Regions from separate parts of the Homo sapiens genome. Here region 2 is linked to region 1. The links come from fine-mapping of genetic effects on gene expression. A gene starts in region 1. The other region holds a variant in brackets. All regions are shown on one strand. Distances are between the middles of the regions. Region 1 holds the start of DUSP5-DT (DUSP5 divergent transcript). Region 2 holds the start of LOC105378482 (a long non-coding RNA gene).

What was found.
Region 2: its variant is fine-mapped to the expression of DUSP5-DT in whole blood (TOPMed, PIP above 0.99). The same link has a PIP of 0.9 or more in blood mononuclear cells and macrophages.

The regions. Positions count from the first base shown.
Region 1 is chr10:110,493,170-110,501,497 of GRCh38, reverse strand. It overlaps DUSP5-DT (DUSP5 divergent transcript), which reads left to right and starts at 5,016. Exons shown (of 2, transcript NR_187547.1): 1 at 5,016-5,110. It overlaps DUSP5 (dual specificity phosphatase 5), which reads right to left and starts at 3,591. Exons shown (of 4, transcript NM_004419.4): 1 at 2,998-3,591. The coding sequence starts at 3,376. RefSeq lists silencers at 2,865-3,134, 3,255-3,314, 3,385-3,524, 3,535-4,064 and an enhancer at 4,546-5,069.
Region 2 is chr10:110,443,425-110,451,752 of GRCh38, reverse strand. LOC105378482 (a long non-coding RNA gene) reads left to right here and starts at 4,317. Exons shown (of 4, transcript NR_188210.1): 1 at 4,317-4,658. It also overlaps the pseudogene HMGB3P5. The variant C/T (reference allele first, on the strand shown) is at 4,183.

The sequences.
Region 1 (8,328 bases):
TCTCCAACTCCCTCCCAGAAGCTGCAGCCAATTCCTAGAATGAGTCATCTTGCCATTACCGCTTCCTCTCAGCTCACTGGAACTGCCCCGCCCCCACTTAGTACACCCAGATCTCCCCTGTGGTCACCTCACAAGCAGCCCATTGCGCCTGCCCATGAGCTCCTGGTCCTCCTCAATGACCATGCTCCCCACGACAACGGGAGGCCACGGCAGAGGTGCAAGATGGTGCTATAGGCAGCTTAGCTTCCCATGCTCTGCCATAGCCCCTGGGCCCCTTCCCTTCCAGCAGTCAAGAGAGAATGAGGCAGGCTCACAATGACCCACAGCTTCCTTGGAAGAGGCATCCCTAGTCAGTAAACCACCTGATCACTTCCCGTGCCTGGACCTCGACATTATGGGTTCCAGGAGACAAACAAGGATTTGGATGGGAATTTGGAGTTCAGAATGACCTGGGCCCTCCCAAACTTCAGGACGAAGGTTGGGGAAATAGGAATCTTCAGGCTACCCCATCTTTTGGCTTTAAATATATTACTTCAGAGTTGGCTATCAGGAGGACAGATAAGAGGTTCGGGTGTGGGCTGGATCCTGCATGCTGTTGACAAAATTTAGTTGAGGGACAGATAAACAGGGTCCTGCCTCTTCAAGCTGGGATTCAGAGGAATCCTCCAGATTAAATGGTCTCAGTCTTTCACCCACTCCCATCAGAGGTGTGGAGAGACAGAACATTCCTCGCTGGTGCCTCACTCGAGTGGCAAAAGCCATGGCAATTCTTAGAGCTACTTCTTTTGGAGTGAGTCTGCTTTCAATCACCACCACATCACCAGGGAACAGAGAGAGCACAGATACTATATATAAATAAGCACTGACCACGCAATTCAGTCATCACCATTTCATTTTAGTGGTTGTTTGGGAGACAGGGGATTATGGAAAGTGTCAAAAGGCATTGCCCCCACCAAGATCTGAGATGCCACCAGATTAAAACCTGAACTCCTATCTGCACATGAATTACGTAAAGAAATAAAAATTTTCTCTGGCAACAATTTAAAGTTTAGTAGTGTTATAAGGGTAGGCATGAAGCAATTTCTACTGAAACTTAAAATGCATGTAATTCTTGACCTGGCAATTCTCATGATTTACTGAAAGGCACTGCACACGCAAGAGCACATGGAGAAGGACATCTACCGCATTGCTTGGAGCAGTGAGGCGGGACGCAACCTAATGGTCATTACAGGAGACCGGTTCAATGTGAAACAGACATGTATGATCAGATATGGACAAGTCTCCAAGATCTAGATAGATACAAGAGGCAGGACAGGGACTATACAAAATCAATCTATTTCTAAGATACTTATGAAAAACTATCTAAAGGTAAACAAAAAATAGTTGACGACTGTCTCTGGGGAGTGGAACTGGGTTCTAAGATATGCAGAAGACCCGCTTCTCATCACAGGGCCTTCATGCTGTTCAAATTTTTACCTGTGTATATGTTACCTTCTTTTAAAAAACATTTTAACCCAGTTTTCCTGAGATGTGAGTCTATAGAGCTGCCTACTTTGTGGCGACAACTTCTAAACTGTCAGCAGGGCCAGCTTAGAGAAGCATGGGGAGGAGAGGTGGGACCAGGGAGGGTCTCCTGGAACCTCTTTCATACTACTGAGGCAGAAACTTCTCCAAACCACAGGAGATAAAAACCATATTAGGAAGAGAAAGAAATCAGGAGGCACGCTGAAACCTCTGCAGAGCCAGAGGGCCAACCCTCTATCCCCTGGGGGATAGGCTGTTAGAAGAAGGACGATTACCATCTACCTCTGTTAACTCTCCAACAGGAAATCAACAGGGGACCAGTCAGCAGGAGGTGCTAGCAGAGAGGGGAACTGTCTCCAGAATCTTCCTGGCCCGGACTGTGTGAAACTCAAGTTGCATGGCTTTAAAACAGGCTCCTAACTCGGCGCCGGCTCTCTGCACCGAGCTCTGATCCCCAACACTGTTACATCCCAAGGTGTCCGCGCCAGGGCTGGCACGGCCTTGGGGCCCTGCTGGGGCTAAACCCTCATCTCTACATGTGGGTCAGGTCTCCCCGGGTGTCATTTGAGGTTACAAAGGACTCAAACACAAAGCAGGAGCAGTCATAGGAAGTAACCCAGAAAAAACCAATGCTTTGGATTTTGAGAGTCAATCACCCACCCACCACCAGAAGCCAAAGTTATCTTCCCGGCAGGTGAAATGGGCAGGCCTGTGGCGGTAGCTCCGGGAGGTGTCAAATCAAAGGCCGCAGAATCTCCATACCACCCTGCCCCCGCGCACCTCTATTTCGTGGCTGGCTGGCTGTAGGCTCAGCTCAGGATGGGTCCCAGGGATAATCCTGGGGCGGAGGAAGGAGGAGGTGAAAAGGGTGGAAAGGATGTGAGCTCCAAACTGAGCTAGAGAAAAGACCTAGGAGGGGAGAAGAGGCCGGAGGGAAACAATAAAAAGCAATAAAATGAAATGGAAAGGGAAGGGACTCGCCAGGTCAAAAAGGCAAGGGGGTCGGTGAAGACCACAGCTGGCTAGGCGGGAGGAAGGGGGGCACCACGGCGCCACACCAAGGGAGAGTGGATCGCGACCTGCTGATCCCGCCAGATCAGTCTATCAGGAAGGCCCCGAGCCCTGACCCCAGCGACAGCGGCGAAGCTCGCGTCTGGAAAGGGGGCTCGTGCCCGGCACGAGCCGACGGCCCCCAAACTGCTAAACAGCAGCAGCCCCCGCAGCATAACCAACTCCACCCAGACCACCGGGCAGACCCGCTGCCGGGCGCTTTCGAGGAACGCGGGTGGGGAAGAGGGGGAGCTCTGAGTGCTGACATTTGCAGTGCCCTCCCAAGCGCACAACAAGCCACAGGGTGCAGACTCCTGCAGGTGGTGACTCTCCCGGTCCCAGGGTGTAGGAGGGCGCCCCGGCGCAGGGAGGGGACCCGGGGGCGCCGGAGGGGCGAGCGTGGCAGGGACCCCGAGCGCTCACCTTTGAGGAAGTAGACCCGCGGGCCGGCGGGTAGGCAAGCGAGTAGCGAGGTGAGGACGACACGCGCGGCGCTCTCCTCTCGCAGCTTCTGCCAGTGGCGGCTGCCCTGGTCCAGCACCACCACGGCCGCGACGCCGCCGCCGCCCTCCTGCAGGAGCCGCGCGCGCGCCGCCTCGTCGGGCAGCACGTAGCGCGCCGACACCGCGCCGCCCCGGGCCCGCCGCAGCACCACCGAGTTGAGGTTGACGTTGAGCGAGCCGCGCACGTTCGAGGCAGCGAAGGCCAGATAGGGCCGGCAGTCGAGCACCACGCAGCGCGCCGCCGCCTCCTTGCGGAGCATCTTGCGCAGCTGGCGCCCGTCGAGCGACGTGACCTTCATGCCGCCGCCGCCGCCGGCCAGCGGCCCCGCGCCGCGCGCCCCGCGGGTGCCCACGGCCAGGGTGTCCACGGCCAGGGTGTCCGCGGGCGAGGCACGGGAGGGCGACCCGCGGGGCTGCGGCCGCGACGGAGCCCGGCGCCCGAGCGGCGGCGCAACTCCGCGTTCCCGCCCCGCTCGCTCGATAGCCAGCCCGGCCGCTCGCCGCCCTAGAAGCCGGGGATTCCGCCGGCCGCGCAGCGTTTTATGTGAATGAGTGCCGTCCGTGACGCGGCTGCCCATATAAGGCCAAATATGGGTGTTTCCCCGCCCCTCGGGCCGTGGCCACGCCCTGCAGGGGGCGGGGCAGCGGGGGCGAGGGACGCGCGGGGCGGGTGCCGGCGTTAGAGCGAGAGGAAGTGGAAGGCGCCTCTTCGTTCTCTCTTCCGCGCTTCGCTGAGGGACTCACTCGCGCATCACCCGCGGCTGCCGGTCGAGTGTCCCAGGCGCTCCGGGGCCGCGGTGACCCTCGCGGTGCGGACCGAGGAGGAAGCGCCGTGGGGGGCGGGGCGGCGCCGCACGATCCGGCCTTCAGCTTCACGGACGTGGGCTGAGAACCCGCCCGCGCCGCGCTGAGCAGGGCCGAGGGAGCCGGCCAGGGCCCCAGAGGAGTCCGGAACGGATTCCCGTCGCTACCGAGGTCTGCGCGTGTAAGGAGAGGACGTCGGAGATTTGCCTCGAGGGGTGGGGTATAGATGACTGGAGAGGTCAGGCGCGGGTTGGTCATCGCTGAGGCTGGGTGATGGGTGGCCGGATTCGTTATACTGTTTTCTCCACTTTTCTGTATGTTTGATATTTTTCATAATAAAGTTTGTAAAAGTAAAAACGGGGGTTGGGGGTCGGCGGTGAGAATAGCCATTTAATCTTCCTAAATGGATTCTGCCCTCAAAGGATTGACGCTCTTTTCTCTGTCACTCTCCAATAATGATTAGAATAATAAGTTGTATTTTGAGGAGCTGTTTTCTGGTCCCGGGGAGACCCTTGGTGAACTCAGCAGTACCATCAGCATGTATCCCACGATGGAGCTCAGTTCAGCCAACTGTTGTCCAGGTGGCTTCTGGATTTGGGGGATTATCTATGGATCAAGTTTAATCTCAGGCTGTCTGCCCCCACCGGTCCCCAGGGGCTTCAGGCCTCCCACCCCTATTCCTGGGGAAGCAGACACAATTCACCCATTCAGCAAGCATTTATTGAGGGTCAGCCGTGTGCCAGGGCTTTGCTAGCTGCGGGGACACATGGATGGAAACAGGTTTCTGCCCCCAAGCTCACTGCCAACCATTTTATTGTTAGCCTGGCTGGGACTGCTTGATGGAAAACAGTCTGCCCGCACTAGACAAGGGCTTGTTGACAACTGACATAAGGGAATGAGGTTTTCAGAAGGAAGCAGAGATCAAATTTTGAAATCAGATGCAATCAAATCAGACACCAGGACAGCCAGCATTGCCTCTGGGTCACAGATGCATCCACCCAAAGGCGCTGTCCTCGCCTTGCCAGTGGGGTCTTGGTGAAGACGTGATGCGGGGGCCTTCTTTCTTTTTGTGGTTATCTGTGCCAGCCTTCCCTGCAGGCTGCTCTTCCTCTAGCACGTTCTGTTTCTGTTACCGGCTCTTTCCACCCCCGGCATCTCCGCCTAGAGCCACACACATACGCGGAGCACCCACGTGGGCCAGGCTTTGTTTTGGGGCTGGCGGCACCAACGTGAGTAAGACTTATACTCAGCCCCAGCTGCCCCCAGCCCAGAGGGAAGGGGAAGGCCTGTAGTCCGTGGGGAAGAGCGCCCAGTAGGGGTGTGGCAGGGTGGGGCGTGGGCTGGAGAAGGCCTCCCGAGGAGAGGAGAGCTGAGGCCAACTCCGAGGAATGAATTGTAAGCCAGGCTGCGAAGCAGGAGGGGAGATTCCAGGCAGAGGAAACTGCTTGGGGTAAAGAAAACAAAAAACGCAACCCCCCCAGCATGGTGCGTACTGGAGGTATGTGGGAGACTAAGGCCCTTCTGGTATTTATTAGCAGATTAAGCAGGGTCAGGCAACAGAGGGCCTTGTGCTGTTTTGAGTCATTTGGGTCTTAGTCTTTGGCCGGGCAGTCCCCAACGAGGGATCTTACTCAGTGACAAGATCCGGATAGCATTTGGGAACATCGCTGAGGCGGCTCTGTGCGGGATCGGTGCTTTATTTGAGAGTGGTGGTGGGGTCCGGAGTCTGGGGGATGGATGGGAGGATTTCATGGGTAATCTAGACATGAGCTGATATGGACTTGCCAGAACTTGGCAGTGACAGCAGCTATGGGGAGGCCATAGGAATGGGAGCACATTGAGGAAGTGAGATGCTGGGAGGGGTGAGATGGGGAGAGAGAACTGGAGAGGGACACCAAAGATTTTTTTGTTTCCGGATTTTTTTTTTTTAGATAGGTTCTCGGGCCGGGCGCGGTGGCTCACGCCTGTAATCCTAGCACTTTGGGAGGCGGAGGCAGGCGGATCACCTGAGGTCGGGAGTTCGAGACCAGCCTGACCAACATGGAGAAACCCCGTCTCTACTAACAATACAAAAAAATTAGCCGAGCATGGTGGCGCATGCCTATAATCTCAGCTACTTGGGAGGCTGAGGCAGGAGAATCGCTTGAACCTGGGAGGCGGAGGTTGCAGTGAGCCGAGATCGCGCCATTGCACTCCAGCCTGGGCAACAAAAGCGAAACTCGGTCTCAAAAAAAAAAAGCTTGTTCTCACTATGTCGGCCAGGGTGGGCTCAAACTCCTGGCCTCAAGTAATCCTCCCACCTCAGCCTCCTAAAGTGCTGGGATTGAGCCACCACACCCGGTTAGCATTTTTCTTTTCTTTTTCTTTTTTTAGGACAGAGTCTCGCTCTGTCGCCCAGGCGGGAGTGCAGTGGCGTGATCTCGGCTCCCAGGTTCAAGCAATTCTTCTGCCTCAACCTCCTGAGTAGCTGGGATTGCAGGCACACACCACTACGCCCAGCTAATTTTTGTATTTTTAGTAGAGACGGGGTTTCACCATGTTGATCAGGCTGGTCTCGAACTCCTGACCTTGTGCTCCGCCCACCTTGGCCTCCCAAAGTGCTGGGATTACAGGTATGACCCATGAGCCACTACCCCTGGCCAACACCATAGTTTTTAACCTTTAGATAGGGACTCTACAGGAGCAGGTCTGGGGTGAGGGTAGCAGGAAAAGGAGGAGTGGGTGAAGTTTATTCATATTAATAAGCTAGAGTTGGTCACACCAAGGAAGGTGCCCAGAAAGCAGAAGGGTGGCATGGCACCCGGTGTAGGAGGGTCATCTGTCAGCTGGATTGCTTCCTCACATCCCATATCCAACAGATTACTAAGTCCTGGGACCCTGCTTCCCAGAGCTCTCATCTGACTCATCCTGTCTTGTCCCATGGCCAAGGCCAGCTTTGCAGGTATGTGACCTGTGCAGCCAAACGGGGCCCCGTACTTAGAAGGGACCCCCACTTGTTTTAATGCTCTGTTGTTACTAAATTGTTAATAATTTTGTGCAAGAGACCCTGCATTTTCCTTTCCCACTGGACCCCACAAACTCTGTAGGTGGTCCTGCCTATCGCTGTAGTTAAAGGGCCCCATTATCCCCCATCCCCACTGGACCCTACATTAGCATCCTGTATCCCAGTCTCAAAGCCCCCTCCTTGCTCTCTCATCCTCTGCAGTGTGGTCTTAAGCTTACGTCTAAGCACAGAGCCCACCTCCTCTGCTCAAAAATTTTCAATGCCACCTACGCACTGTCTTGATAAAATCCAAATTCCTTAGTGAACACTAAGGTCCTCGGTCTGGCCAATTGGCCACAACCCACCTCTAACGTTTCTCACCTTCCTTCTCATCACCCCTCCGCACACCGCCCCCATTCTTTGTAAAGCAATCCTTCTCCACCTTCATACAGCTCTGGAGCTACTGTCGCACATTCAGGATGCCACCACTTAATCCCCCAGCCTGTTAGCCGTCACCCTCCTAGGGGTTCTCACTTCCCTTCCCCACTAGCCTGGTCCGTGAGTGTTATCTGTCCTGCCATTAACCTGCAGTCTCCCAGGCTAGACTTAGGGGCCTTATCCGACCATCTGTGTCTCCTTCACAACACCCTCACATGGTGAGGGCTGAATCAGTGTTGGTGGAATGGAATTCAGTGCTTGCTGAGACATGAGAGTGGCCAGCTTTTTAGGAGGCACCTGGGGAGAAAGTTGGTAACAGCACAAATCAGGGCCCTAGACACTGGATAAAAGGCGAAACAGAAAACTGGAGGTGCACAGTCCATAGATTCAGGACCTGGAGTCCATCGGCCACAGGTCTAGGAGGAAGAGGAGAGTGTCTGAGACTGGAAGGGCTTAATGGAGCAACTAATCTCTTGCCTGTGTCCCAAATACTTTGGAATGAGTGTGAGAATTGGCTCAGGGAAAAAAGCAAAATCTAAATTAATATTGTGAGTCCATGAGGCAGGACCTTGTCCTATTCATTAATCTTGCCCCTCAACAGTTATTTTCAGAGGGGCAAGAAGTGTTTCAGGGTTCTTGGCCCTTGTTTGACCAGTCGTCCTAACCCTCATGTCTTGGGTCATTGTTGTTATAATCTGGGGTTACCTTTTGGAAGGTCATGGGGTACCCTTTTGCAAAAGTTATGGGCCCTCTCCTTGGAAACTGCACACACACCATGCAGCTTACAATTCAGGGAGTTCACAGGTCTACAGAATCCTGGAAACTCTCATGTCCGGTTCTACTCATTGTAGCTTCAGTGGAACCTTCTAGCAGTCCTTTCCAGCTCCTCCCCAGCTCCTCAGCTCTGCTTCCCTCCGCCCATCAAGCCCTCCTCAGCCCATAAGGTGGGCCAGGTGGCCTGTGGGGATAAATCAGAGTGCCCACAAGTGCAGGGGCCCAAAGACATCCCAGAGCAAACCCAAGAAT
Region 2 (8,328 bases), 50 kb after region 1:
TTCCAAAAGGCAACTTCCCCACAGCCTCAACCCCAAGCAAAGAGCTTCAAGAGTTTGTCTTGGTCGTTTTGTTCTTTTTACAAACTATAGATATATACAGTTGATAACTTAGGTTTCCAGCCAATTACCATATAGTTAAGACCACCTTACAAATTAAAAAAAAAAAAATGCCAGAAACATCTTTAAATGCCTTGTCACACCAACCGCAAAGTGCACAGAGTGAGGAGAACATGAGAGTGCCTTTTCATTTTAAAAATGTTTGGAAATATGTACAACTTTGATACAGTTTCAGGGTGCTCTGGACACCCATGGCCACTTCATGTAAACCACCGACAATTTCTAGAGCACTTTGAGAGACTACAATATGATCGTGATCAAATTTTGTAATTAAACCTAATGAGGGCAACAGACACTTCTCAAATAAGAAATGTGTCAATTACGGCCCTCCCCTACTCTAAGGTATTCACAAGGAGACAGATAAACAGGTTTTTTTTTTTTTTTTTTTTTTTTAATTCATCCTCCTCCTTCTCCTCCTTTTCTCCCTCCTTGTCTTCTTCACCTTCCTCTTCCACCTTTTTCCGGGCAACTTCAGCAGGACACTTTGCACCATCAAACTTTCCTTTCGACTTAGAGTCGGCAACATCCTTATCATACTTCTCCTTCAGCTTTGCCGCCTGAGTGACGTAAGGCTGCTTTTCACTGTCATTTAAGTTACTCTACATCTCACTCAGCTTTTTTTTTTTTTTTTTTTTCTTCTGCATCACCAATAGAGATGCTAGGTTTTGTGGAATTGATCTTGGAGCGGAATTCTGAATAGAACAGGAAGAATCCAGACGGTGGCATTTTGGGGGCATTAGGATCCTTCTTCTTCCTGCCTCCCTTAGCTGGTCCATAATCCTTCTTTTCCTGATCATAGTGCACTTTATCCACCTTTGCCATTTCATCAAATTTAGACTTCTCTTTCCCATACATTGTCTTCCACCCCTCAGAGCACTTCTTGGAAAATTCTGCAAAATTGACAGGAACTTCTGGGTTTTTCTTTTTATGTTCTTCTCTGCACGTCTACACAAAAAGGCAGAAGCAGACATCTTGCTCTTTGGTTTTGTGGGGTCATCTTTAGCCATCCTGACTGTATTGTTCACTAGTCTCAATTTTGTTTAACTTTTTGAAAAACCGACTTTTTGTTTCATTGATCTTTTGTATTTTTTTATTTCAATTTTATTTATTTGTGTTCTGATCTTTATGATTTCTTTTCTTCTGCTAATTTTGGGTTTGGTTTGCTCTTGCTTTTATAGTCTTTGAAGCTGCATTGTTAGATTGTTCATTTGAAGCTTTTCCTCTTTTTCAATGTAGGCACTTTTAGCTATAAACTTCCCTCTTAGTATTGCTTTTGCTGTATCCCATAGGTTTTGTTATGTTGTTTTTCCATTATTATTTGTTTCAAGAAGTTTTTTCATTCCTTTTTTCTTTTTCTTTCTCTCTTTCCTTTCTTTCTTTTTTTCTTTTCTTTTCTTTTCTTTTCTTTTCTTTTCTTTTTTTTTTTTTTTTTTTTGAGATAGGGTCTGGCTCTGCCACCCAGGCTGGAGTGTGGTGGTGTGATCTCGACTCACTGCAACCTTAACATCCCACCTCAGCCCCCTGGGAATACAGGAGGAAATACAGGCATGTGCCATCACACCCAGCTAAGTTTTGTATTTTTTGTAGTGACAGGGTTTTGTCATGTTGCCCAGGCTGGTCTTGAACTCCTGAGCTCAAGGAATTGGCCCACGTAGGCCTCCCAGAGTGCTAGAATTACAGGTGTGAGCCACTACACCCGGCCCAATTTCCTTCTTAATTTCTTCATTGACCCACTGGTCATTCAGCAACAGATTGTTTAATTTCCATATATTGTATAGTTTCCAAAATTCCTTTTGTTATTAATTTCTAGTTTTATTCCATTGTGGTCAGAGTAGATGCTTGATATTATTTTAACTTTTTTGAATGCTTTAAGACTTATTTTGTGACCTAACATATGGTCTATCCTTGAGAATGATCCATGTGCTGAGGAAAAGAATGTATATTCTGCAGCTCTTGCATAAAATGTTCTGTAAATATCTCTTAGATCCATTTGGTCTATAGTGCAGATTAAGTCTGATTTTTCTTTGTTGATTTTCTGTCTGGAAGATCTGTCCAATGCTGAAAGTGGTGTTGAAGTCTCCAGCTATTATTGTATTGGGGTCTATCTCTGTTTTTAGCTCTAATAATATTTCCTTTATATGTTTAGGTGCTCCAGTGTTGGGTGCATATACATTTTAAATTGTTGTATCCTCTTGCTAAATTGACCCCTTTATCATTATATAGTGGTCTTCTTTGTCTCTTATAGTTTTTGTCTGATATAAGTATAGTGACTCCTGCTCTTTTTGGTTTCCATTGGCATGGAATATCTTTTTCCATCTCTTTATTTTCAGTCTGTCTGTGTCTTTATAGGTGAAGTGTGTTTCTTGCAGGCAGTAGATCAATGGGTCTTGTTTTTACATCCATTCCAGCAATCTGTGTCTTTTGATTGGAGAGTTTAGTCCATTTACATTCAGTGTTATTATTGAAAGTAGGGACTTACTCCTGCCATTTTGTTATTTGCTTTCTGGTTGTTTTCTGGTTTTCTCTTCTTTCTTTCCTTCCTGTCTTCTTCTACTGAAGATGATTTTCTCTGGTGATATGATTTAGTTTCTTACTTTTTATTTTTTGTGTATCCATTGCATGTTTCTTGGTTTGAGGTCACCATGAGGCTTGCAAATACTTTCTTGCATGATTTTTAACTTTGTTTCATCAGTTATATTTACATCTGTGAGAGCTACCACAAACTGAAGGTACTTTTTCATCAGAGTGGTTTGGTCAACCACCACGGCTCCTTGTGTTGCAACAAATGCCATTTTTCTTTTGAGCTGGTTTGTTTCTCGAGAAAAGTATCAGGTCCGTGAGTTCAGTCAGCCCCAACCTCAGTGGCCTGGCTCCCACAGCCCTATCCTGTGACTGCCTGCTGAGCCCTCACCTCTGTTGCTGCTCCACCTTGCACAGTCCCACCCCATACAAGAGTTCATTTCTTAAAAGGACATTGTCAGGATTAAATTAGTTTCTATATTTAAGTGTCTCAGAAAAGTGCCTGACACATAGAAATAGCTCAATACGGGTTAAATATTATCAATATTCTCCCACCCCTACTTAGGGTCTCTTCTGTACAAAGGATCTCATTGCAATATGAGTGAGGAGGTCAAACATCATTCGGTAATGTTCTGGTCTAGGACAAAATTTAGAACTGAGTAATTTTTGGCAAGTAGTTTAATATCTTTGAACCTCAACTATGTCTTCCATTAAAAACAGATTTCTAGTTACCTTTTAGGGTTCATGTGAGAGCTCAGTAAGAAAATGGTTGGTTAAGGCAGTTATGCCTACATTAAGCTATTTTGCCTACCACAATGGTAAAAATTATGTACACATTTTAAAGATTTGCATTAAGATTAAAACCAAAAAAGGGTTTCTGCAGCTCATCTCCACTTAAGTGGGAATTTCTGGGGACCAAGACCACTCTCATCCCTAGTCCCTATTTCCTGACCTCTCCAGATCTGCCCACATGGCCTCTTTGGCATCTTGACAAAAGCACTCATTGGGATGAGGTTCTTTGTTGCAGTTGCCTGTGGACACAGATGGTCTTTTCCAGCCAAAGAAAGACAGGAGAAGCGCAGGCCCATGTGTGGCTGCATTGGTTTGCAACAAACAAGATTCATTCATTTGGTCCTTCATGCATTCTTTTTCTTTTTTTTTCTTTTTTAAAATAAGACAGGGATCTCACTATGTTCCCCAGGCTGGTCTCCAACTCCTGGGCTCAAGTAATCCTCCTGCCTCAGTCTTTCAAAGTGCTGGGATTACAGGCGTGAGCTACTGACCCTGGCCATACTTTCTTTCATTCAATAAATATTTATCAGTGGCTTACTCTGTGCCAGGCATGTGTGAGGACCTACGGTTCAGAGGTGAACAAGGGAGATATGTCTCATGAAACTTACATTTTAATTGGGGTGGTGGGTGACAATGGTTGAGGAATCAAGTCATATCTTTGGAAACTGGTAAGTATTAAAAAGAAAAATAAAACAAGGCAATGCTGAGAGAGAGGCTCTAGAGATAGGGGAAGAGAAATGGCAACAAATTGGA[C/T]GGAGTGGTCAGGGAAGGCCTCAAAGAGGAAGTGACTCAGGCAGCATCTGCTGTGAGACAGGAATCTGGCTCTGCAGCAACATGGGAACACAGCATTCTTGGCACAGATGCCCTGGGATGGGAATGAGGAGGCCAGAGTGCCAGGAGCTTTGTGGAAGAGGCAGGCAGAAGCCGAATCTTGGGACCATCCTTTCTCACCTTGCATGGCCCAACAAGTCTGTGTAGGGCCTTTTCCAGGAAGGCAGAGCCTACCCCTAGCTGACTCTGTGTCCCTTCCTGTGGTTGCCTCACTGGTCCAGTCTCACTAGTCCCTCTGGCTCCCTCTGGCTACTTCCGGCTTCCTCTGGCAACAGACTACTGGGGGAGATAAGTGAGAATTGCAACATGCTCTCTCATTACCCTCAAGGAACTAGAAAGATAGAATCTCTACGGACCCCACAAGACGACTGATACTACAGACTAGACAAGAGCACCAGGTGAGGGCTGAGGGGAAGTTTTGGGAGGTGTGCATGACCACTGAGAATGGAGGGTGGAGGTGTCAGAGAAGTGAGAAGAGCTCAGCCTGGACAGAGGGTAAGAACGAGCTGGAGATGGGGTGTGGATGGCAGTCCACATAGGAGGAAGGTAGAGCAAAGGAGTCCTCATGGGAAGGAAAGGACTAGGCAATCATACTCAGATCAGTTTGTCTCGCCCTTGGGCTGAGCCACTAGAAATGGAAGAGAAGCTTGGAAAAGGCGAAGGAGACACTCAGCCTTGGGAAAGTAGTCAGCGAAGTGGCATGGAGCATTCTGGACACAAATGCCCAAAGACAGGAATGAGGACTCTGGAGCTACACTACTTGGGTTCAAATTTGAATTCTGTTGCTTACTAATGCTGGGACCTTGACAAGTTACTTAACCCTTCTGTGACTCAGTTTCTCCATCTGTAAAACAGTGATCATAACAGTACCAAATTCATTTTATAAAGTTTAAATGAGTGAATAGTTGCAAAGCACTTAGAATAAATAGTACCTGGCCCAGAATGATGTAAGTGTTGGCTAAATTAAATGAATGCTGGTGAGCAAGTGAGACTCTCATTCTGAAGCCAATGGGAAGCTCTCAGATGTTTCTGGGCTGTGCCATGCATGGAGGAAAAGAGTGCTCTGCTCTAATTCATCTGGTGCAGGCTGGATTGGAGGTGGACGGCCTGGGATCAGGAAAACAAGTTAGGAGTCTACTGCAATAGCCCAGACATGAACACTGATTGGCTGGTAGCAGGGCTGCTGGGGAGAATAGAGGGGATGGAAGGCTGGAGGTTGCTGCCGAAGGAAGTGCTCCTAACATCTGGTGTCTGGAGACGGGACTGGGGGTAGTGGGGTACAGATGGAGGAAATGGAGGCCTTGAGCTTGAGTGATGGGGCGAATGTGGGGCTATGTCAGAGAGGGAAGCTGGAAAAGTCATCTGGTTTGGAGGAAGATGGTGCCAACACATGGACGTGTGTTGCCTTTGAGGCCATGGTGTGCCCACAGTGTTCTGGGTGTGATTTCATATCCTGGGTCTGAGGAAAGGAATCCTAGGGGGTTGGATTCTGGCTCCTAGAGAGATGTGAGAACGAGAGTTTCAGCCCTGGCCTCTGCTCACCTGTACACCTGCACGTGTTTGGAGGAGGGTAGGTAGGCTGGGGACAGGCAGTAAATATTTAATGAGGCTGAGTCCACACATCCTCTGCATACTGTATTAAAAGGGCAGTCAGGAAAGGAAGACCCTGCTTGTGTCCACCACTCCCAGACACTCGGTAGTGACAGTGGTCAGTGCTCTCCTTACCCTCACCCCATTGCAGGGGAGAGGATCTCACAACTCAGCCCAAGGCTGACCACACTCCTCCGACTCTCACCTGGATAAGGGTCCCAGCTGGGGTCCAGGGACAGTGGTTGGGACCAATAGTATTTGACTACTGGTTTCTGTTAACAAGTGTTGACTGGGTACCTGCTTCGGGATCCAGTGAGCACAAAATGTCCACTAACCAATGGATTTTTTGAGCATCTCCTCTGTTCAAGCTCTGTATAAGGCACGGGGCTCAAAGTAAAATTAAATGCTTGGTTCCAGAAACCGCATTAGCCTAGGTTTTTGTTTTCCATTTTTAATTATTAATGACAGTAGCTTCAATATAGATATCAGAGGAATGTATCCTTCTAGTCATGAAAATCTTGTTTTAGCCTGGCTTTTAAGTATAATCATTCCCTCCAATCTTTCCTATAAAGGGTTGTTAATTATATGAATTAATATATCTGTAAAATTTTATTGGGATTAGGTCCATAGCTTTCATTAGCTTCGTAAGGTTTTTTTAAAATCATATTTTTCTTTTTTAGTTCAGAAAAGAGTCAAGAAGAAAATTAAAATGGCCCATAATCCTACTGTCCAGATAACCCCTTGTTTTCACTTTTTAAATGCATATGGAAAATAATTCATGTTCTAGAAAGACACAAAATGAGAAGCAAAATTCTCTCACTGCTCCCTCCCCACTTCCGTTTCTCTTCCTAAAGGTTTGTGCTACTAATGGTTTCTTATATATCCCTCTAGAAAATGCTTAGTGCACTTATCAGCATTATAAATGCATTATGTACATCCTATTCTTAAAAGCTTCTCCCGGAGGTTAAGAACTATTGCTCTCTCTAGGCATGATTGTCTGTTTTTATGCTTTTTGCCCTGTTGATCTGCATTTTAAAAAATAACAGAGGAAAGTCCTTTCTCTTTCTTTCTTTCTTTTTTTCTTTCCTTCCTTCCTTCTTCCTTTATTTTCCTTTTTTTTCTTTTTTTAGAGATGAGGTCTCACTCTGTCACCCAGGCATGCTGGAGTGAAGCAGTGCAGTCATAGCTCACTGCAGCCTCAACCTCCCAGGCACAAGCAATCCTCCCATCTCAGCCTCCAGAGTAGCTGGGACCACAGGCATGCACCACCATGCCTAGTTAATTTAAAAAAATTTTTTGTAGAGACGGTCTCACTGTGTTGCCCAGGCTGATCTCAAACTCCTGTACTCAAGTGATCCACCCGCCTTGGCCTCCTAAAGTGCTGGGAATACAGGCGTGAACCACCATGCCTGGTCAAGGAACTCATTTTCTAATGCTCCTCTGCCTTGGACTAGTGGACAGATGTCAGGAAGTTACTTTACCTTGCTGAGCCTCAGTTTCCTCATTCTTGTGGGGACTCAATGGCAGTGTCAATGCAGAAAGGCCTGGGCACACAATAGGCCTTCCATAAATGGTCAGTGCTTTCCCTTAGGCCCTTTTGGAAGGAGGAGGGGCTGCCAGTTCTAAATAAATGTTACAGAAGGGCCTGTCATCAGTTGCCCCTCAGAGTGACCTGTCACTTTGTTCCCAGCTATAAGAAGAAGAGTGTGGGAGTCCCCTGACTGGAGGTGACAGGGTCACACAAATTCCTCACCCTTGGTGTTGGCACCCACCCCAGGAGCTCAGGCAATCCAGACCCCAGGAGACTGATGCCATCTGTCCCTGGCTGGGAAGGAATCTCTGCCAACAGCTGAGACAGGCCTCTGATATATAGCCCCTGTCACCTCCCCCTCTTCTTTCTCTGAGCTGAGGCTTTAAGACCTGTGTGACTCCAGCTTCAGAGGGAAAATGGCTTACAGGAAAGGTCTCCAGTATCATCTGGGACCAGGGGCGGCTTGGCTATTGTCAAGCTGTGACCAGCCCCAGGAAGCCAGAAAGAAGGGCAGGACTCCAGTCCGAGGAGGTGGGGGCCGTGGTGATGGCAGATGAGGCAGAAGGTGGACGAAGACCATTTGTTGTGTGCTGGGAAGCACTGGCCACAGTGCTGGGTCCTTGGCAGGTGTTACTTGCTGGGACCTCCCAGCTGCACTCCCACTTTGTAGATGAGGACTCTGAGACTCAGAGAGGCAAGCCACCTTGCCTTTTGGGGAGGCAATGGCAGAATCAGGACTGGCATCACCTGCGTAGTCCAGCACTTATGTTTTACTACGTTGGCCACAGGTAGACGTGAGGGAGGGCACCAGACAGGACACCTAGGGTCTGGGCCACAAAGTGGCTGCCCACTCACAGGCACAGACACACTTCTCCCGGGGTCCACTTCTGCCAGTCCTGCTCTGTCTGTATTCTCAGAGTCTAGGACAGTGCCTGGCGCATAGTAGG